Linked DNA regions of Homo sapiens: region 2 is linked to region 1. The links come from fine-mapping of genetic effects on gene expression. A gene starts in region 1. The other region holds a variant in brackets. All regions are shown on one strand. Distances are from middle to middle. Region 1 holds the start of GIHCG (GIHCG inhibitor of miR-200b/200a/429 expression). Region 2 has its middle 36 kb from the start of ATP23.

Region 1 (12,066 bases):
TATTATGCATATTATTTTACAACTTGTTTTTTAAAAGCAATGCATCTTGGGACATCCTCTTTTGTCAACATACAAGTCTACCTCATTCTTTTTAACATGGTATTGAATTGTATACCACAGTTTTTCTCAGCCTTTTAGACTTTTTTCTTTTTTCTTTTTTGAGATGGAGTCTTACTTTGTCACCCAGGCTGGAGTGCAGTTGCGTGATTTTGGATCACTGCAACCTCTACCTCCCAGGTTCAAGCGATTCTCCTGCCTCAGCCTCCTGAGTAGCTGGGATTACAAGCGCCTGCCACCATGCCCGGCTAATTTTTGTATTTTTAGTACAGTTGCGGGTTCACCATCTTGGCCAGGCTGGTCTTGAACTCCTGACCTCATGATCCACCCACCTTGGCCTTTCGAAGTGTTGGGATAACAGGCATGAGCCACTGCACCCAGTGTAGACATTTTTTTCTTAATTATTACTCTCCCATGAAGTTTCAATACCACATATATACTGTATATTTGTTTATGTGCTTTACACACATATCTATGCTTTAGAAAAAAAAATTTCCCTCAAGAATCAATTTTCACCTCCTTGTTGCGATGTTGCCACCCCGTGAATTCATGATATAGGTATTCCATATCCTATTTCATATGTGTACTACTTTTGATATTCCAATACTGCATTATCTATATTTATACATATATTTTGTTTCTGTAGGATATATTTCTAGAATTGAAAGGCTGTGTTGTTATTAATATTTAACATTTAATTGATATTGCTAAAGACTGTGCCAATTATATGCCAATCAATGTATATTGAGAATCTGGCTTCAATTTTTACACTTAAGTCACAAATCCATTTGAAATTTATTCTGGGAATAAGGTAACGATCTAATTATCTTTCTCCTCTAAATCTAGCTCAATGTACTTATATACTTTACTGGATTAATCTTTTCTTGATGTACCACATATTAAATTTGGTAAGTGCTCTTAGATATATTCAGGCTTTGAATTCTGTTCCATGACTGTTTATTTATTCCATTACCACTCTATGTTTATTATTCTTGTTTTATGCTTTGTTATATAATACAATTTCCTTTTATGAATTCTATTTTCTTGTTTTTTTTTTCATGTTTTTTTTTCTCTCAATGAATTTTGGAGTAATTCTGTTTAGTCCCAAACAAGCAAACAACAAAAACAAGCTCTTAAAATACTTTTGGGATTAATATTGGAATTTTACCAAATTTGCAGATTAACTTAGTGAGACTGTAGAATACTTTTAGAGTACCTTATAGAGTTACATTTAAAATAAGACAGAGAAAAAAAGAAATGTTGATTTAATGATGTATACTTCTATATTAGAATATTTTGAGCTGTCAATGACAAAAATCCAGGTAAAACCCAAGGTTAAGTATAAAAGAGAGTTTATTGGCTCATTCAACGGATAAGTCCAGTGGTAAAACTAGTTTTCAGGCATGTCTGGATCTCTGGGTTCAAACAATGTCATCAGGACTTGGTCTCTCTGTCTTCCAGCTTAGCTTCTTTAGCTTCAATATCAGACAAACCTCCATGTGGTTGCAAAGGTGGCCTGTCTGCTCTGTGTCTGTATGTTCTTTAGCACCTGCAATATAACATCAGAGGGAGAGTTTTTTTTTTTTTTTTTTTTTTTTTTTTTTTAATAGTGCCAGCAGGCCAGGTGCGGTGGCTCACGCCTGTAATCCCAGCACTTTGGGAGGCTGAGGTGGGTGGTTCACCTGAGGTTGGGAGTTCGAGACCAGCCTGACCAACATGGATTAACCCTGTCTTTACTAAAAAAAAAAATTAGCTGGATGTGGTGGTGCATGCCTGTAATCTCAGCTACTTGGGAGGCTGAGGCAGGAGAATCATTTGAACCTGGGAGGTGGAGGTTGTGGTGAGCCGAGATTGTGGTGAGCCAAGATTGCGCCATTGCACTCCAGCCTGGGCAACAAGAGCGAAACTCCATCTCAAAAAAAATATATATATATAAATAAATAGTACCAGCAAAAGTACCAATGATGGTTCTCATTGGTCAGGTCTGAATCAAGTGTAGGAATGGGGGCAGTGTGGGCAGTTGGGAATCAGCCTCACTTGAACCAGCTAAGGCTGGTGAGTGGTGGTTTCCTGAAAGGGATGTGGAGCAACCGAAAAATCAGGAATTATACACCATAATACCTATTTATGTATTTATTTATTAGATGGAGTCTCGCTCTGTTGTCCAGGTGGGAGTGCAGAGGTGCGATCTCGGCTCACTGCAACCTCTGCTTCCTGGGTTCAAGTGATTCTCCTGCCTCAGCCTCCTGAGTAGCTGGGATTACAAGCGCCCATCACCACACTCAGCTAATTTTTATATTTTTAGTAGAGACAGGGTTTCACCATGTTGGCTAGGCTGGTCTTGAACTCCTGACCTTAGGTGATCTGGCTGCCTTGGCCTCCCAAAGTGCTGGGATTATAGGTGTGAGCCACCACGCCCTGCTGATAATACCTGTTTATAAAAAGAGGATTTAAAAGCAACATTAGGAAATATTACTAAGTTGAAGTTCTAATACTATTTTTTAGATTATGAAGTTATTTTAGGGCTAAAGGTGAAAAGAAACCAGGCCATTGGGCAAGAAAACATGATGATAGACATTAAAAAGTTACTTGTAATTGAACAATATTTGTTAGAATTATAATGCTTATTCTTGATGTTACTCTTCCTCCATTTCTTGATCTCATCACTGCTTAGATTCTCCAAAATCTTGCTTCATAAATTTGTCCTGTTTTGCAGCTTAATCTTGTCTTTTATTTTTTTCCCCTGCTCCTAAGGAACCCCATTCCCCACCTCCCTAAACAAATCAACAAGCCTTTCAATTCTACTGCTTTTTATACCTCCTCTTCTTATATTCATTGGCCAATTGTTTAAAGTCATCAGTGATTTCCTTAATCATCAAATCCAATGAACTTGGACCCTCCTTGATGGCTTGCTGTCTCTGTAGTATTTGACAATATTGACAGAACTTTCCTTCTTGAAACCCGGAATCTTAGTTCCTATGAAACCCACTCTCCTGATGTTTCTCTTAGCTTTCTGATGACTTTTTCTCTGTTTACTTTGTTGGTTTTTCTTCTTCACCTTCTTTATATGTGGGTGATTCTCAAGGTTCTGGCTTCAAACTGTTTCACTATTCACTCTTTTTTTTTTTTTTTTGGCAGTTTCAAATACTTTCAAAAGAAGGGTATACACTTTTTTTTTTTTTTTTTTTTTTGAGACAAGAGTCTCACTCTGCTGCCCGGGCTGGAGGGCAGTGGCTGCCTCCCCTGCTCAAGTGATTCTCTTGCTTCAGCCTCCCATGTAGCTGGGATTACAGGTGTGCGCCACCACACCCGGCTAATTTTTGTATTTTTGGTAGAGACGGGGTTTTGTCATGTTGGCCAGGCTGGTCTCAAACTCCTGACCTCAAGTGATCCACGTACCTCAGCCTCCCAAAGTGCTGGGATTACAGGTGTGAGCCACCACACCCAGCCTACATCTTCTATTTAACTGCTTCTGATCAGTTCCTCTCCCAACACCTGTGTGATCTAATCCTAACTGTCCACTATCTAGAAAGACAGAGCTTAACTTCTTAACTTCTTCTAAAAAGATCTTTCCCTTCTGAATCCCATGGTACTTTTTTTTTTTTAATGGCACTACTTTAAAACTTGCATTAGCTCCTTATGTGTTAAGACTTGTCTTACTTTCTGGCCTATAAAGTCGCTTTTCCTTTTTCTTTTTTTTTTTTTTTAAGGAGATGGGGCCCCTGCTCTATAAACTTCTTTAAGAAGATTTTCTTCTTTTTAAACTTTTATTTTAGGTTTGGGGGTACACATGAAGGTTTGTTGTAAAGATTATTTCATCACCCACGTATTAAGCCTAGTACCCAATAGTTATTTTTTCTGCTCCTCTGCATGCTCCCACCCTCCACCCTCAAGCAGACCCCAGTGTTTCTTGTTCCCTTAAGATTTTCTAATTCAACTCTGCATCTCCTATACTGTAAAGCACAGTGTTTTGTATTTTTTCATTTGTTTTTTCAACATACATAAGCACTGACTATGTATTGTGCTAGGAGCTGGGTAAGTGGTTAAAAAAAACCCCGTGCTTTCTGCCCTCAGACAGTTTAGAGTCTCGTGAAAATACATATTGTGATATATAATCAATAAAACTTTATTGAAAGAATGAATCTTACATCTTAAACTCCTTTTTCATCTTCTTTCCCCAAACTCCTGACCTACATTCCTGCGCCCTTTCCCCTGATAAATCCCACAGATTTCTCAAATCCAGCAGCTGAATTGGATTCATGTGCTATGGATACACATAAATAAGTTTGCCCCATGTTCAAGAAACTCACAATAAAGCACCTTCTCTCCCCAAACCTTCTGCTGATTTTAGTATCAATGTTACTAACTCCTTCTTATTACCAAGGGGAAATCTTGGTATTCTTTTTGACTTCTTCCTCTTTTTCATATTTAATTCTTTAATTCAAGCAATTATCCCTCTTGTTGAGGTCCTTTCACCTATAGCAGAGGTTGAAAATTAGTGACCCACAAATTGTATCTAGCTAGTAGAGGTGTTTTGTTTTGTATAATATTATCAAAAATATGATTTTCCTGTTTCTCCTGAAAAATCAGGCAACACTGAGTCCTTATTTTTGCAAGAATTGGCTGGAGTTTTAGATGGGACAGCTCAATCAACTCTAACATTCCAATCTCTATCACTCCTTGCTTTTGTCACATTCAGTCCATTTCCTCACTTATGAAACTTTCTTAGTCCCTAATTTAGGCATCTGAGTTTGCCGTCTCTGGCCTATATGATCATAGACTGTCAGTAGTGGAAGAGATATTAAAAGATCAACTCGTCTAACAGTCTCCTGCTTCCTCTCCCCACTCTTTAAGAGACGGAGAAATGAGGTCTAAAGAGCTTACATTACCCAATCAATTTCATACAGCTAATGTGTAACAGGATTCTATAATATGCCATTAGGCCTCCTCCCTCATACGGATCATGTTAAACTTATATTTTCCCTTTGGTTTAATTGCTAGGAACCTCAGAGCCCAATTTGTGGCACCCCTCTAGTAAATACACGGACCTTTTGGTATGAAGTTTTGGGGTATTAATATACCCCTGGCTTTATTTTGTTTTCCAATTACCTTTACCTCAGTTTCTCTTCATCATTTTCTCCTATTATAGTGTGTATTTTTTTTCCCCAAGCATACTCAATCTTTTGTGAAAGAGGTACATCCGTACAGGCGTAAACTGTCGGGCTGTATTGTCTGGCTCCCAATTTCTTTCTTTCACTGTCATTCTGCTTTGGCTACTCACATTCTCTGTTTTCCTTGACAGCCAAACTTCTTGAAAGAATTGTCTTCACATGCTGTGTCCACTTCATCCTGTCTTTTCAATTCACTGTAAACAGATTTAAAGCCTTCAATGCCTTCTTTGTTGCTATGATATTAATACCAAAATTATATTGTATTCATCCATATATGAAGGACACAAAATGGTTTTCCCTAAATTATCTCAACTATGAAAAAATATGCAGAGAAAAAAATTAATAGGTAATGCATGAAAATGTTACTTCTGGGTAGCTGGATGACTGGTGAGATTTATTTTCTTTTAAAAATTTTCCACAGTTTTAAAAACAAGCGCATTAGAACACATCCCGATGTAAATTAGAAATTCTCAACTTACATTTTCTAAAAGGAGGCAGAAAACTAGAGAAGCGACAGTGAGGAGCCACTGGGCCACACTTCATTTCACCTTAAGACTGACTCAGAGAAAAACAAGAGGGTACGACTCAGATCCCCGGGGCCAGCAGCAGGGCCGCGGGGCACGACTGGATAACCGCTTGTGAAGAAAATTTTAAGAGAGCCCTCACGACCCTTTAGCGCATCCTAAAAGACCTCTGAATATCTCTGCCTCTCCCGCTAACGGCTCCAAACCGCAGATAACGGTCAATCGCCTCCGGTTGTCCTGGTAACAGCCAGCAACCACAACCCTGCCTGCGTAACTCCTCCCAGAACACCGTGCGTCTTATCGCTTCACTTCCGGGTTCGGAGGGCCGACTTCTTCCGGAAGTATCTGCCTGCCAGTCACCTGGCGTTTTCTGGCTGTGTGGCTTTACTAGACAGAATGTGGCGTATTGTTGGGCAGGGCCCTGAGGACCCTTTTGTTGTTTCCCCCCCGTTTAACAGGACTGGAAAGCTAAGCAAAGGCTTTACTCTCACGGAATTGGATGAATTGGACGTTAGTTTTTAAAAAGCCGAAGGGTACATGTTAGCTTTATTTAACCATTCCACAATGTATATATATTTCAAAACATGTTTTATACTATAAATATAATTTTTATTTGTCAACTAAAAAACAGCATTAAGTGTTAAAAGCTGTTAAGTCAGAATATAGAGATGAATCTTTGAAATTAGAATGCTTTATTTGGGAAGAAAATAGTAATTTGGGGCATATATGTAGACTGGGGTGGTCTTCGGGATGTCTGAAGAGTGAAGAGGTTAGAGACTTTATAAGAAGGAGAAATGTTACGTATTGGTCTCCAAGAGAGTTTATTGGCACTATTAATGTTTTGGTGGGGTTGGCAAACTGATTGCTGAGTGACGGTGGTGGGTAAAATTAGTCTTAGAATTGTAGCAGACTGTCTTAGTAGCCTTTAGATTAAATTGGTTTTAAGTGTTAGCAGGCAGTTTCAGCAGCCAGGCCTGTAGAGAATTATATTTTTCAAGTGATATTTGTGACCTGAATGTTTTTTCCCTCTGGCCTCTCCACTCTTTAACTGGTATGACAAAAGTGACCCGATTTATATGATCAACTTTCACAGCTGACAGGTGGTAAACTCTTTACAATTATATGTAATTTATTTGTTACTGTGATAGATTTATACAATTTTAAATAATTTAGTTCCCATTAAAAAAGCAATTATTTTTGCTTTAGAAAATGAAGGCCAAAAAAACCCCCAAAACACAAAACCTCCAAATCCTACCCATTTAAGGACAACCAATGTGAATACTTTGTAGGAGTCTTCCAGACCCTTTCTATGAATTATAGTAAGTACAAATTCAAAATGGAATCATACTGTATATGCTAGTTTGGAACTTAAAAAACTTTTTTTTTTTTGAGACAAAGTTACTGTGTTGCCCAGGCTGCAGTGTAGTGGCCCGATCTCGGCTTACTGCAACCTCTCCACCACCTGGGCTCAAGCAATTCTCCTGCCTCAGTCTCCTGAGTAGCTTGGGATTATAGGCGGCGCCACCACACCCAGCTAATTTTTGTATTTTTAGTAGAGATGAGGTTTCACCATGTTGGTCAGGCTGGTCTCGAACTCCTCATCCCAAGTGATCTGCCTTCCTCGGTCTCCCAAAGTGCTGGGATTACAGGCATGAGCCACCCGCGCCCAGCCTGAATTTTTTTTTTTTTTGAGCTGTTGTCTTGCTCTGTCGCCCAGGCTGGAGTGCAGTGGCGCGATCCCAGCTCACTGAGGCAGGAGAATTGCTTGAACCCAGGAGGCAGAGGTTGCAGTGAGCCGGGATGGCGCCACTGCACTCCAGCCTGGGCGACAGAGCAAGACTCTGGCTCAAAAAACAAAAAAACAAAAAAACAAAACAAAACACCCAAAAACTTTTAATGAACATATTTTGTTTAAAAAAGACACTTAACATGGTTGTATATATTCCATTATACCTCTTGTTGGATATTTAAACAATTGATGTCTTCCCCTGCCGCCCCTTTTTTTTGAGGAGGAGGTGTCTTGCTGTATCACACAGGCTGGTCTTGAACTTCTGGGCTCAGGCAGTCCTCCTGCCTTAGCCTCCCAAATAGCTATGATTACATGCCACTGGCCTGGCCATTTTTGCTCTCAATTAGTGCTGCAATGGAGAAATGAAAATCCTTATAGCTAAATCTTTGCCCTTGCTCTAATTTCTTTGTGGTAATTCTTTTTCTTTTTAAAACTCATTTGTATTTGCTGTTCATTATCTCTTCCTTAATGTGTTTTTATTCCATACCTATGTCTTTATACTGTATACAGATGAAGTTACACATGGCATCCAAAGCCCACTTGATTTTTTAAAGTTTATTTTTCTGATTATAAAGGTAATACATGCTTATTGAGGAACATTAGAAAATTTCAGGAGAATGTAACAAAAAAATTCCAATACCTAGACAACCATTGATACTGTGGTATGAATTTTTTTCCATCTGTTTCTTCAACAATGAGTATTGAAACAGTTTTAGCTAATTTAGTAAGGAAATGTTGCAGCTTTTGGTTTGTACGTTTTTACTTATTCCTGTAGCTGAAGGGTATTGCAAATAGTATCCAGAAATAAAGCCACATACCTACAACCAACTGATCTTAGACAATGACAACAAAAACATATAATGGGAAAAGACACTCTATTTAATAAATGGTGCTACACAAAGTGGATAGACATGCAGAGGAATGAAACTGCACCCCTTTCTTTCACCATATACCAAAATTAACTCAAGATGAATTAGAGTTAAATTTAAGACCTGAAACAATAAAAACCCTAGAAGAAAACCTAGGAAAAACTCTTGTGGAGATTGACCTAGGCAAATAATTTATGAGCAAGTCCTCAAAAGCAAATGCAACAAAAACAAAAACAGACAAATGAGTTTCATTAAGCTAAAAAGCTTCTGCATAGTAAGATAAAGAATCAAATAACCTACAGAATGGAAGAACATATTTACAAACTGTGCATCCAACAAAGGACTAATATCCAGAATCTACAAGGAACTCAACCAGAAAAAACTAAATAACCCTATTCAAAAGTGGGCAAAAGACAGGAATAGACATTTCTCAAAAGAAGACATACAAGTGGCTAATAAACATGATAAACTTCTCAACATCACTAATCATCAGAGAAATGCAGATTAAAACCACGGTGAGATACCATCTTGCACCAGTCAGAATGACTATTATTAAAAAGTCAAAAAACAACCCGATATTGATGAGAATTCAGAAAAAAGAGATTGCCTATACACTGTTGGTGGGAATGTAAATTAGTACAACCTCTGTGGAAACTAGTATGGAGATTTCTCAAAGAACTAAAAATAGAACTACCATTTGACCCAGCAATCTCACTACTGGCTACCCAAAGGAAAACAAATTGTGACTGGGTGTGGTGGCTCATGCTTGTAATCCTAGAGCTTTGGGAGGCTGAGGCAGGAGGATCACTTGATGCCAGGAGTTTGAGACCAGCCTGAGCAATATAGCAAAAAACCTCCATCTCTACAAAAAATTAAAAAGTTAACCAGACATGATGGTGCATGCCAGTAGTTCTAGCTACTCGAGAGACTGAGGTGGTAGGATTGCTTAAGCCCAAGAATTCAAGGCTGTGGTGAGCTATGATTACGCCACTGCACTCCAGCCTGGGTGACAGAGCAAGAACCTGTCTCTGAAAAAGAAAAAAAAAAGAAGAAATTGTTATGACAAAAAGACAAAGACATAGAATCAACCATTAACCTAAGTGTCCACCAACAGATGGTTAAAGAAAATGTGGTTATGCATACACCACGGAATACTATGCAGCCATAAAAATAATGAAATCATGTCTTTTGCAGCAACATGGATGGAGCTGGGGGCCATTATCCTAAGTGAAATAACTCAGAAGCAGAAAATCAAACACCCCATGTTCTCACTTATAAGTGGAAGCTAAAGACTGAGTGCACGTGGACATACAGAGGGGAATAATAGACACTGGGGACTCCAAAAGTGGGGAGAGTGGGAGGGGAAGGGTGAGGGTTGAAAAATTAACTATTGGGTACAATGTTCACTGTTTGGGTGATGGGTACACTAGAAGCCCAGACCTCACCACTACACAATATATCTGTATAATAAACCTACACATAAACCACCTGAATCTATGTATTAAAAAAGAAAGCATGAAAAAAATCCAAATAGTATTTCAAATGTATATAGGCTATGGTCCATTTCTAGGCATATCTAGCCTGCCTTCAGTATTCCAAACTAATCACACTGAATTGTAATGGCTTAGTTTTCCATATGTGTGTTTTAGTTCAATAACTGGATTGAAAGCTAGTTGTGTGGTCCTAGATAAATTATTGAATTTTGCTGAGCCCACTTTATCTGCAAATTAGAGATAATACTTACTTTGCAGGGTTGTAGTGAGGATTGGAAATAATGTATCCAAGGTGAATTTAATTAAAAAGTAGTTACTTTTTTTTTGACTTCTGGCTTTAATAGTCTATGTACATAGGAGTTGTTTGTATTTTTATAATATTCCAGATGAATGACTATCCTAGCATCCCACTCAATTTAGATATTGAGCATCTATGACACATAAAGCACTGTTCATAACCCTAAAGGCCTGCTGAGCCTATATTTTTCAGATATGTTTCTTACATAAACCACATGCTGCTCTTCATCTTTAGCAATTTTCTTAGTCATGTGTTTCCTCAGTCTCTTACACCTTGCCTGGCCCATCATAGTAGGTGCTGAATAAATGTGTGAGCTGAGTGGAATAATTTAGTAGGAAAAGAGAAACACACAAATTGGATAAAACCTGGCAGGCTACGATGAAAATGATTAACAGGTACAAAGTGCTTTGTACATTGGGAGATCAGGAGACATTAATTTTGATTAAGGTATCTGGGAATGCCCTGTGGAGTAGGCAGATTTGACCTGGGCCCCAATCATAGGGGCTGAGGCAAGGAGCTTAAAGATGGAAATGACAGTATGAGTTAAGGCTGAGAGGTAGAAGTAAACAGGGTGCGCTTTGTTATCAGGGAGTTATTGGTGGGGGGTGGGGCAGAAGAGTAGGGTAAACGAATGGGTACAGGTGGGAAGAAAAAATGTAGTTGGTTCCTACATTTTGAGGATTTTGATGTGACTAGTCATTCTTTATAGTTTTAAAACGTTTCTGAAAAACACTGCTTTCAATATGGCCAGAGGCATCTTTGGGCAGAGTGGATCTGAGGGATGGCAGGGGTCGGGAAAGTGGCGGGCCAGAAATGACAACTGGCTTGCCCCGGAAGAAGGCAGGGAGTGGGAGGATGGCCGAGACCTTCGGCGGCACAAGAGCAGTTAGTGGCCAATATTCGCCCCGAGGTGAGGAAGGAGTGTCTGCGAGGAGGCGGGACACCCTTAGAGCTCAGCAGGCAGCAGGAAGCTGCAGAACAACGCTTATAAAGACATGTCACCCACACTGGGAGGGCAGCAGCGAAATCCGCGGCAGCCGGGTTGTTACAGCCTTTGAGGGAAGTCGCAAGACCCAGCTCCGCCCAACAGCATCGGGCCCCGCGCCCCGCCCCATGCCCTCGCCCCGCCCCTCATCCCTCGCCCCGCCCCTCGCCTCTCGCCCCGCCCCTCGCCTCTCGCCCCGCCTCCCGCGCTCCCCGTCAGGTTCAAAGCCCCCTCCCGCCTAACGTCTTCAGCCCAGCCAGGCTGCCCTTCTTCCCTGCGGAGGGAGGGCCTGGGCGGTCGCGTTGGCGGGAGGGAGGTTACCTTTCCCAGTCTCGCTCTGGCCGCCTGAGCCAGGAGGAAGCAGCGGCGAGGTCTGCGGGAGGCATGGCGGGAGCTCCGGACGAGCGCCGGCGGGGCCCCGCGGCAGGGGAGCAGCTGCAGCAGCAACACGTCTCTTGCCAGGTCTTCCCCGAGCGTCTGGCCCAGGGGAATCCCCAGCAAGGGTTCTTCTCCAGCTTCTTCACCAGCAACCAGAAGTGCCAGCTTAGGCTCCTGAAGACGCTGGAGACAAGTAGGAGCCATGACCTGGAGGCTGTGGTTCCACAGAATGGGTCTGAGACCGGGTGGGCGAGGAAGGGCCTGGGCAACACCTGGCCAGGGGCTTCAGGTTCAGCACAGAGTCTAGACAGACTGGGCATCATGGGGGCTGGGTTGGGAGCCTGAGGCTCAGTTTCCCCACTAGAGGTGGCGCTGAGACCCTTTTCGTCGCTGTTTTTGGCTTGTGGAATGAATTTGTCTGCCCTTTTTTGTCACTCACTGTTGTGACAGATCCTCCGATTTCTTACATAAGTTATGCAGCCACACTGTGACTTCAGGGTAA
Region 2 (12,066 bases), 42 kb after region 1:
ACATCGATGCAAAAAACCTCAACAAAATACTAGCAAACTAATCCCAGCAGCATAATAAATGGATTAGAAACATGACCAAGTGGGATGCATTCTTGGAATACAAGAATGCCTTAACATATGAAAATTCACCATTATAATACATAACATTAACAGAATAAAGGAAAAGAAACACATCATCATTTCAATTATTGCAGAAAAGGCATATGACAAAATTCAACACACTTTCATGATAAAAACACTCAACATGCTAGGAATAGAGAGAAACTACTTTAACATAATAGAAGCCTTAATGAAAACTCATACAGAACATCATAATCAATGGTAAAAGACTGAAAGTGTTTCCTCTAAGATCAAAAACAAGGTAAGGATGCCCACTTTTACTACTTCTATTCAATATAGTGCTAGAAGTTTTAGCCAGAGCAATTAGGTAAGACAAAAGCATCTAATGAAAGGCATCCTAATCAGAAAGGAATAATTAAAATTGTTTATGCTCACAAATGATATTTATCTTCTATTGTCTTGTATTTCTGCTCACAGATAATATGAAAACCTTAAAGATTCTACAAAGAAACTATTAGAACAAATAAATAAATTCAGCAAAGTAGTAGGATACAAAGTTAACATACAAAAAGCTGCACTTTTATAAATTAATAATAAACAGTCTGGGCTGGGCACACTGTGGCTCACACCTATAATCCAAGCACTTTGGGAGGCTGAGATGGGTGGATCACTTAATCTCAGGAGTTCAAGACCAGCCTCGGCAACATGGTGAAACCCTGTCTGTACAAAAAATTACTAAAATTAGCAGGGTATGGTGGTGTGTGCCAGTAATCCCAACTACCCGAGAGGATGAGGTGGGAACATTGGTTGGGCTGCAGTAAGCCATGATCACGTCATTGCACTCCAGCCTGGAAAACAGAGTGAGACTCTGTCTCAAAAAACCCCAAAAACCAGTCTGAAAAGGAGATTAAGTAAATAATTCAATTTAAAATAGTATCAACAAGAATAAATTATTTAGGAATTAAACAAGAAGGTAAAAGACTTGTGAAAAAACAATGAAAACTACAAAATATTTCTGAGAGAAATTAGAGAAGATGTAAATAAATGGAAAGACACCATGCTCATGGGTTGGCAAACTTAATAACATTAAGATGTCAATACTGCCCAAAGTGTTGTACGTATTTAATGCAATCCCTTACATAATTCCAATTTTTTTTGCAGAAATAGAAAAACTCATTCTAAAATTAATATGGCATGGTGGCTCATACCTGTAATCTCTACACTTTGGGAGGCTGAGGCAGAAGGATTGCTTCAGCTCTGGAGGTCGAGGCTGCAGTGAGCCAAGATCGCACCATTGCACTCCAGCCTCAGCAACAGAGTGAGAGTTTGTCTCAAAAAAAAAAAATTAAAATAAAATGAACGTGGAATCTCAAGGGACCAAAATAGCCAAAACAACCCTGTAAAAGAACAAAGCTGGAGGACTCCCACTTCCTGATTTCAAAACTTACCACAAAGCTACAGTAATCAAAACAGTGTGGTGGTGGCATAAAGACACATATACAGATCAATGAAACAGACTAGGGAGTTCAGGAATATATCTTCACTTACATGGTCAAATGATTTTCAACAGTGTGCCAAGACTCTTCAATTGAGGAAAAAACAGTCTTTTCAACCAGTGGTATTGGAAATACTGGATGTCCACATCCAAAAGAATAGTGTTGGATCCTTAGCTAACACCATATACAAAATTAACTCCAAATTGATCTGCTACCTAAATACAAGAGCTAAAATTATGAAATTCTTAGAGGAAAACATAGGGGAAGTGCTTCATGAAATTGGATTTGGCAATGATTGCTTGGATATGAAACCAAAAGCATAAGGAAACAAGAGAAAAAACAGGCAAATTGGACTTCATGAAAAAGACAACCCACAGAATGGGAGAAAATATTTGCTAATCATGTATCCAATATGAGATTAATGGCCAGAATATATAGATAACCCTTAAGACTCAAGAAGAAAATGCCAAACAACCTGATTCAAAAATGGGCAAAGGACTTGAATAGACATTTCTCCAAAGAAGATATACAAATGACCAATAAGCACATGAAAAGATGCTCAACATCACTAATCATTAGGGAAATGCAAGCAAATTAAAACTATGAGATACCACCTCATACTTACTAGGATGGCTACTACCAAAATAGTAGTACAAACAGAAAATAAGTGTTGAAAAGGACGTGGAGAAATTGGAGCCCTTGTGGATGGTTGGTGGGAATGTAAAATGATACAACTGCTATAGAAAACAGCATAGTGGTTTCCCAAAGAGTTAAAAATAGTTTTATCTGAAAGTCTTAATAAAGAAAAAAAGAGAAAGAAAAAAGTTAAAAGTAGAATTACCATATGATCCTGAAATTCCACTTCTGGGTGTTACTCACAAGAATTGAAAGTGGGATCTCAAAGACATATTTGTGCACCATGTTCACAGCAGCAGCATTCACAATAGCTAAAACATGGAGGCAACTCAAGTGTCCATTGATGCATGCATGGATAAGCAAAATGTGGTATATCCACACAATGGAATATTATTTATGTATAAAAAGGAAGGAAATTCTGACACATGCTATGACATAGATGAACCTTGAAGTCTTTATACTGAGTAAAATAATCCAGACAAAAAAGGACAAATATTTTATGATTCCATTTATATGAGGTACTTACAGTAGTCAAAATATTAGATACAGAAGGTGGTTCAGAGCTTGGGAGAGAAGAGAATGGGGAGTTATTGTTTAATGGGTATGAGGTTTTAATTTTAAAAGATGAAAAGAGTTCTGGAGATGGAGGGTGCTGGTGGTTACACAAGAGTATGAATGTACTTAATACCACTGAACTGTACACTTAAAAATAGTTAAGATAGTAAGTTGACTTGCTATCTCCTCCTCATACTCCAGGTTTCAGTTTAAATGTTACTTTTTCTGGACATTTTTTCTTGAGCCTCCAACCTGGGTCTCAACACAGGTTATATATCCTCAAATATATGCTGTATTACATACCCCAGATCACCCTGCACTTCCTCCTTGATGAAGCTGTTCCCCATGGTGACAAAGACTCAGCTCATGTTGGTCCTTCCTGTATCCCTGGTGCCTACATCAGCACATAGTAGACAGTGAGTGTTTAATAAATACTTATTGAATGGGTACAATGTCTATTTTTTCTTCAGATTGAGTCCCTTTTCATGCAGTGGTTGGGAGAATGAATGGGAGCTGTAGTTTCCTAGTGAGCCCTGATCTGAGTCCAGCCACCTTGACTCTTCTGAGGCTCCTCAGGGCTTCCTACTAATAGGTGGCCCCATTAGTGGGCTGCCTGGTATGGCTTTGACCCTACAGATCCAGATTTGGAGTGTGCGTGTCACTTTGACCTTTGCTCTGGGACTCTGAAGCATTATGTTAGGAGAGTGTTTTTGGCTCATTGTAATTTCCCCCCCCTCGTATTTGATCACTTTGGTTATGAGGTAGCATGAATGCAGTTAGCACTCAGAGAAGCTGCCACTTGCCACTTAGGGCATCACACAATTTTTGTTTTCCTTCTAACTTAACATCTGTACCTGTTGAATAAACAGTGTTGTTCAATAAAACTGCAGATATTCTACTTGGTAATTTCTATAGAACCAAATTCAGCTCTTGGGGACTGTAACACTCGCATTGCAAAAGTTAGAAGTAGAAATCAGCAGGGAAGAGAAAGAAGAAAGAGAATAATGAAAGAAAAATGCAGGCTTATTAGCAGAATGCTTGGCTCTTGCTTCTCGAATATTTTAAATTCAGAAAAAAGTTAAAAAATTCAAGTGCAATCTTATCATTAATATAAATTAACATTTATTAATTATACACTTAGGGCATTTCTCTGAAGTGAGTTTAATGAACAAATAACTAGGTTTGGTAATATCTTGGCTGAATATCACTATCCTCTTGAGAAGGTGAATAGTTGAAATAGCATGGTCTGATTGCTACAGACTAACATTATTCTGTTTCATTCTCCACTCTGCTCTTCCTTCTCCCAAGGGCACAAATGAACAAAACAATGGTTTCTTAATTGTTTAGCACTCAATTTTCTGCCTAGCAAAAACTGTGCGGTTATGCCAGTTCTCATACAGTTTTAGTTAAAATAGAAGATTATTGCAATTAGAATTCAGTGCATATTAACCTTTAATTCATTTCTACCAGTTTAAACAAACTCTATTGTAGAAAATTTCAAACATTTACGAAGCAAACCAAGAATAATAAATATCCTTGCACCCATGACTCAGGTTTGACAATTATCAACATTCTGCCCTTTTGTTTAATCTATACTTTCAGCCACTATCCACATCACATTCATTTTTTAAAGGTAAATTTCACCTCTAGTGAGATACCCAAATAATAACTATACAATTTGGACAATATGTACATTTGTGTAACCCACATCATAAAATTTAGAACACCCCATCACCCCAGAAAGTTCCTTCCTCTTTTTTCTCAGTTTCCCTCTTTCCCACCATCCAGCTAACCACTCTTCTAAGTTTTTTTCACCATAGATTGGTTTTTCCTGTTCTAGAATTTCATACACATGGAATCATTAAATATATTTTCTTTTGTATCAGGTTTCTTTTGCCCAGCATGTCTGTGAGTTTCATTGCTATTATTGCATTTATTATTAATTCATTCTCTTTTTATTGCTAAGACATGTCCCATGGTATGAATATAAAACAGTTTGCTTATTCATCCTCCTGTTTATATATAATGGGTTGTTTTTAGTTTTAGGTGTTGTAAATAAGGCTGTTAAGAACATTCTTGTACAAGTCTTTTTGTGGATATGTTTTCCTTTCCACAAATAAGTAAAATACCTATGATAGAATAGCAGAGTCAAAAGATATATGTATATTTAACTTTAAATGAAACAGAAACCTTTTCCCAAAGTGGTTGTGTTATTTCAGATTCCTACCAGTAGTGTATGTGAGTTCTATTTTCTCTTATATTCTAACAAATATTGTCAGTTGTCTTTTTAATTTTAGTCATTCTAGTAGGTGTGTAGTGGTTTCTTATTGTAGTTTCAATTTCCACTTCTTTGATAACTAATGATATTAAACAATTTTGTTGTGTTTATCAGACAATTTTAAATTTTAAAATAAATTTCCTTTGTAAAAGTGTCTGTTCAAATATTTTGCCCATTTTTTCTTCGATTGTTTTTCTTTTTACTATTGAGTTATAAAAAGCCTTTGTATTTTCACTTAAAAGTTTTTTTAATCAGATAAATGTTTCATGAATATTTTCTTCCAGTCTGTGGCTTGCCTATTCATGTTCTTAACATTTTCAATGAGCAGAGTTCTTTAATTTTGAAGTTTAATTTACCAATTAAAAACATTTTGTGGTTATTGCTTTCCGTGTCCTAACAAATTTTTGTCTACTCCTAGTTGTGAAAATAGTCTTTTACATTTTATTCTAAGAGCTTTATAGTTTTAGCTTTTATATTTGAGTCTATAATATTTATATGAAATTCATTTTTGTTTATGGTGTGAAGTAAGAGTTCAGGTTTACTCTTTTTCTTATAGCTGTCCAGATGTTCTAGAACCATTTGCTGAAAATACTTTCCTCATTGAATTGCTTTGGTGTCTGTTGCAAATCAATGGACTATGTATGTGTGGGTCTATTTCCAGATTTTATATTTGGTTCTACTGATCTATTTATTTATGTTTAAGCCAGTAATACACTGTCTTGGTTACTTTATAGTAAGTCTTAAGGTCAGAAGTGTAAGTCCTTCAGCTTTGTTTTTCTTTTACAAGGTTGTTTTGACCATTCTAGGTCTTCTGCATTTCTATACACATTTTAGAATCAGCTTGTCAATTTCTATGAAAAAGCCTGCTGAGATTTATGAATGGGATTGCACTGAAGCTATAGATCAATTAGGGGAAAATTCTCAACAGTATCAAGTCTTCCAAATTATGAACACTCAAATTAATGGACATA[G/A]AATATGTCTCAATTTATTTAAATCTTCCTTTTTTTTTTTTAGCAATTTTAAATATTTTTCTTTTTTCTTGTTTATTTATTTAAGACGGAGTCTTGCTCTGTTGCCCAGTTTGGAATGTGGCAGTACAATCACAGCTCACTGTAACCATGAACTCTTGGGCTCAAGTGATCCTCTTGCCTCAGCCTCTTGAGTGGGTGGGAGAGAGGTGTATGCCACCACAACTGGCTAATTAAAAATTTTGTTTTGAGAACTTGTTTGGAGGTTCTAGCAAGGGAGTGCAGCTACTCCTATACCCTTGACCAAAGACTGCAGTCCTCCTCTATCAGGGATGGTCATCCTCTTTGACCGAGTGCACAAAGGGCTAATATACATGGAGCAGTGAGGGAGGAAGGGGACACCCGCCTAGCCAGCCAGATCAGCCAAATCAACCCTGGCCATCAATAGGGTGACAGATGTCACAGCCAGATCAAGTCAGCTTCATCCCTTGGATGTAAGCCTGATTCAACATATGCAAATCAATAAATGTAATCCATCACATAAACAGAACCAATGACAAAAACCACATGATTATCTCAATAGATGCAGAAAAGGCCTACCTTTGAAAAAATTCAGCACCCCTTCATGCTAAAAACTCTCAATAAAATAGGTATTGATGGACTGTATCTCAAAATAATAACAGCTATTTATGACAAACCCACAGCCAATATCACATTGAATGGGCAAAAGCTGGAAGCATTCCCTTTGAAAACTGGCACAAGACAAGGATGCTCTCTCTCACCACTCCTATTCAACATAGTATTGGAAGTTCTGGCCAGAACAATCAGGCAAGAGAAAGAAATAAAGAGAAAGAAACTGGGCAACAGAGCAAGACTCTGTCTTAAATAAATAAACAAGAAAAAAGAAAAATATTAAAAATTGCTTACAAAAGGAAGATTTAAATAAATGGAGACATTCAAACAGGAAAAGAGGAAATCAAATTGTCTTTGTTTGCAGATGACATGATTGTATATTTAGAAAACTCCATCATCTCAGCCCCAAATCTCCTTAAGCTGATAAGCAACTTCAGCAAAGTCTTAGGATACAAAATCAATGTGCAAAAATCAGAAGCATTCCTATACACCAGTAATAGACAAACAGAGAGCCAAATCATGAGTGAACTCCCACTCACAATTTCTACAAAGAGAATAAAATACCTTGGAATACAACTTACAAGGGATGTGAAGGACCTTTTCAAAGAGAACTACAAACTGCTTCTCAAGGAAATAAGAGTGGACACAAACAAATGGAAAAACATTCCATGCTCATGGACAGGAAGAATCAACATCATGAAAATGGCCATACTGTCCAAAGTAATTTATAGATTCAATGCCATCTCCATCAAGCTACCATTGACTTTCTTCACAGAATTGGAGAAAACTACTTTAAATTTCCTATGGAATCAAAAAAGGGCCTGTATAGCCAAGACAATCCTAAGCAAAAAGAACAAAGCTGGAGCCATTGTGCTACCTGACTTCAAACTATACTACGAGGCTCCTACAAGGTTACAGTAACCAACACAGCATGGTACTTGTACCAAAACAGATATATAGACCAATGGAACAGAAGAGAGGCCTCAGAAATAACACCACACATCTACAACCATCTGATCTTTGACAAACCTGGCAAAAACAAGCAATGGGGAAAGATTCCCTGTTTAATAAATGGTGTTGGGAAAACTGGCTAGCCATAGGCAGAAAACTTAAACTGGACCCCTTCCTTACACCTTATACAAAAATTAACTCAAGATGGATTAAAGACTTAATTGAAAGACCTAAAACCATAAAAACCCTAGAAGAAAACCTAGGCAATACCATTCAGGACATAGGCATGGGCAAAGACTTCATGACTAAAACACCAAAAGCAATTACAACAAAAGCCAAAATTGACAAATGGGATCTAATTAAACTAAAGAGCTTCTGCACAGCAAAAGAAACTATCATCAGAGTGAACAGGCAACCTACAGAATGGGAGAAAAATTTTTGCAATCTATCCATCTGACAAAGGGCTAATATCCAGAATCTACAAGGAACTTAAACAAATTTACAAGAAAAAATCAACCCCATCAAAAAGTGGGAGAAAGACATGAACAGACACTTCTCAAAAGAAGACATTTATGTGGCCAATAAACATATGAAAAAAAGCTCATCATCCCTGGTCATTAGAGAAATGCAAATCAAAACCACAATCAGATACTATCTCATGCCAGTTAGAATGGTGATCATTAAAAAGTCAGGAAACAACAGATGCTGGAGAGGATGTGGAGAAATAGGAACGTTTTTACGCTGTTGGTTGGAGTGTAAACTAGTTCAACCATTGTCGAAGACAGTGTGGCTATTCCTCAAGGATCTAGAACCAGAAATACCATTTGACCTAGCAATCCCATTACTGGGTATACACCCAATGGATTATAAGTCATTCTACTATAAAGACACATGCACATGTATGTTTATTGCAGTATTATTCAGAATAGCAAAGACTTGGAACCAACCCAAATGCACATCAATGATAGACTAGATAAAGAAAATGTGGCACATATGCACCATGGAATACTATGCATCCATAAAAAAGGATGAATTCATGTCCTTTGCAGGGACGTGGATGAAGCTGGAAACCATCATTCTCAGCAGACTAACACTGGAACAGAAAACCAAACACCAAATGTTCTCACTCATAGGTGGGAGTTGAACAATGAGAACACAACAGGTAGAGGAACATCACACACCAGGGCCTGTTGGGGAGTAGGGGGCTAGGGGAGGGATAGCATTAGGAGAAATACCTAATGTATATGACGGGTTGATGGGTGCAGCAAACCACCATGGCACGTGTATACCTATGTAACAAACCTGCATGTTCTGCACATGTATCTCAGTCCTTAAAGTATTAAAAAAAAAAATCCACAAAAATTAGCTGGGTGTGGTGGCACATGCCTGTAGTCCCAGCTACTCAGGAGGCTGAGGCAGGAGAATCGCTTGAACCCAGGAGATGGAGGTTGCAGTGAGCAGAGATCACATCACTGCACTTCAGACTGGGTGACAAAGTGAGACTGTGTGAAAAAAAAAAAGGCATTGGCTTTGAGGTGAAATATGAATGCTTAAGGCAGAATACCTCAATACCAGTTTATATTATTAATTCTGGAAAGATTTTAAAGACAATGTTATATGCACTGTTTTCTACAACGTGTCCCTATAAACCATTTTTGAGGGCATTGGAAGATTATGGTGGCTGTTTCCATATTAAAATGTTAATGTCTGAGTCAAGTTGGTGGTTTTTGAACCTGAAAGATCAAATAGTTCTATTTAATTGTATTAACCAAATTGATTTTAAACCAGCGGAATTATTTGCAGTGCTTAAAAAGTCATTATTTTCCATTCAAGTGAGATAAATGGGTCACCTTGGGATTTGCAGCTGGAGTTTTCCTTTATGATAATATATTGGGAACCAAGTCATTTGTCCTAATGACACTCTCAGCAAAGGTTCACCAAACCTGTCTTGATTAATTTTTCAAAAGCACTTGAAGAGATTTACCAATTACACTTTCAGGGGTTGATTTGATCAGCTCCACATGGTTGCACAATCTGCATCTTGCTACTTAAACTCCAACAGACCAAAATGGTTAAAAGAGGTCTGATGGAAATAAACTATGAACTCAATTCTAATGTGGTCTAAACTTGTATGCTTTAAATTACTGCATATTTGGGATGCTGCATATAAAATGATCTAATGCAAATTCTCAAATTCTGAAAAAGTAGTGAGGGAGCAAATATTAATTCCATTTTGCCAGTGAGAGATACTGTGACAGAAAACGATAAAGGAACTGAAGATGGCACACTGAACACCACCACAGGACGATTAATCGTTTTCTTTCATCTCCGCTCCCATCCTTCGTTTCTGTGGCAGTTATCATTACATTCTGGCAGTAATGTGGTGGTAAGTAATCTGCATTTTCAATTCTCACAGACATTATACAGTTCCATTTTGAAACAAATTGCTTTTTCTTTTTTGGTCTCTTCTAAAATCTTTCTTCTCAAAGTATGGTCCTTGGCTTAGCAGCAATGGCATCAACTAGTTGCTAATTAGAAATGCCCAGATTCTGCTAGATCAATCTGTTTCATTCATGTGTATATTAAAATCAAGAAGCACTCTCTGGCCAGGCGCAGTAGCTCACACCTGTAATACTAGCGACTCTGGAGCCTGAGGCAGAAGGATCTCTTGAGGCCAGGAGTTTGAGACCAGCCTGGACAACATAGTGAGACCGTGTTTCTAAAATAAATAAATAAATAAATAAATAAATAAAATTAGCCAGGCATGGTGGTGCACCTAGTCCCAACTACTTGGGAAGTTGATGTGGGAGGATCGCTTGAGGCCAAGAGTTCGGGGCTGCAGTGAACTGTGATTGTGCCACTGTACTCCAGCCTGGGTGACAGAGTGAGAATCTGTCTCAAAAACAAACACACAAAATCCCAAAAAACTTCCACAAGTTCAGCTGTGCAAGCTTGAGAATCACTGCTTTAGCATAATGTTGCATCTGGGTGGCCTCACTTTCAAACTTACCATTCGTAAAACGGAATTTTTATATGCTTTTTATATAGTATGTTTGTTGCTCCATAAAGGAAGTTGAGGAATTCAGGATTGTTCTTACTTAATCCATCCATTAATTAAATAACTCTTCTTTTAAGAACAAATGCTTTTAATCTCATGACTAACAAACCTTGTTATGTCAATTTGTGCATTAAGCATTGTTATGTGAAAACCTACTCAGCGTTTCACAAAATGTGAGGAAAGAAATAGAAAATAAAGAAATGTGTTTGGTTTTAGTCATTATTACGGTAGGATAAACTCTGATTATCATAACAGAAAAGAATTTCAATTATGAAATTCAGAGCACACATGAGAATAGATAAGGTCACTAGGTAAGATACAGGAAATCCAGTTAAATTTGAATTTCAGATCAACTGTAAATATTTTTTTTTTACCTAAGAATTTAGCATTTTTTAGTATAAGTATTTAGTAGAAATAGGTTCCATGAAAGTACCTGGGACATAGTTTTATTTGCTAAATCTGGCAACCCTAAGAAATAAGCCAGGCAAAATGAGGGGTAAATTATTATATTTATAATCATTAAAAATTGGAACCTATATGATATGCTATCAGGCCAGCTACATAAGTTACCTTTTATAGAATATTTTACAATTAAGGAGCAATAATGTATGCTGTGTTCCGTGATTGCAGCTCAATATGAAATCTCTAAGTAATTTTGATCAAGAAATTTCTTTGCGTTGATGTCGAAACACAAGCAATAATAATTTAAAATAATCCCATGCATCCTGATTACCATTCTACTAATTTTATTAATTTATGTGTAAAATGTTGAACCAAAACAATACACTGCAATGTTCTTAAAAGAAGAGGAGAGAGAGAGGAAAAAAAAAGGAGAAAAAGAAAAGCCATACCGAAATTCTGAGCTGTTGGAAAACTCAGCCAGCAGCAGAGGGCACTAATGTATCACTGATGAATTGTGCATCACAAGAGGCTTAAACATTTTTTTTTTTTTGCCTCGCACTAATAAACTTTTATTTCACTCAAATTAGAGCAATAATCTTCCATACATAAGTATTTTCCCTGCCCAATAATTCAAATAAAAAAATCCAAAATGATTAATAAAGAAAAATATAAGAATTAACAGACCCTTTAAATTTGTTTTACATATTTTTAAGGTTTAAAAAGGGTTTAAAGTTTGTAATTCCTAGTAGGAAAACATTATCTGAATGAATACTCTAATGGCAAACCACCGTAAAATGCTTCAGCTGCATTCGGGGGAGAGGGGTAGGGATTATCTTCAAAGCACTCCAGCTCTCTTGATGAGAAGGTCAGAGGTACACCGGTTTGTATTACTGCATCATCCATAAGGTGATCTAGGTTGCTTTTCCTTCAGCAATGCCTTTATTTATCGGAAGGGCATTAGGCTTGACCTCCAAATTTGGCTGACAATTTACTGATAAGATTCATAACCTTTGGATTGCTCTGGTATTT

Evidence for each region. PIP is the estimated chance that this variant, and not a neighbour inherited with it, causes the effect.
Region 2: its variant is the best candidate, but not a certain one, in a credible set for the expression of GIHCG in nasal epithelium (TOPMed, PIP 0.71).

Annotation. Positions count from the first base shown.
Region 1 is chr12:57,930,132-57,942,197 of GRCh38, forward strand. It overlaps GIHCG (GIHCG inhibitor of miR-200b/200a/429 expression), which reads right to left and starts at 6,033. Exons shown (of 3, transcript NR_038269.1): 1 at 5,708-6,033; 2 at 5,339-5,422; 3 at 1,318-1,606. It overlaps ATP23 (ATP23 metallopeptidase and ATP synthase assembly factor homolog), which reads left to right and starts at 11,436. Exons shown (of 6, transcript NM_033276.4): 1 at 11,436-11,757. The coding sequence starts at 11,571. RefSeq lists enhancers at 5,458-5,958, 5,959-6,459, 11,305-12,066.
Region 2 is chr12:57,971,798-57,983,863 of GRCh38, forward strand. It overlaps the pseudogene RN7SKP65 and the pseudogene ST13P8. Among named protein-coding and RNA genes, the nearest start is that of ATP23, 36 kb to the left of the region's middle. The variant G/A (reference allele first, on the strand shown) is at 5,997.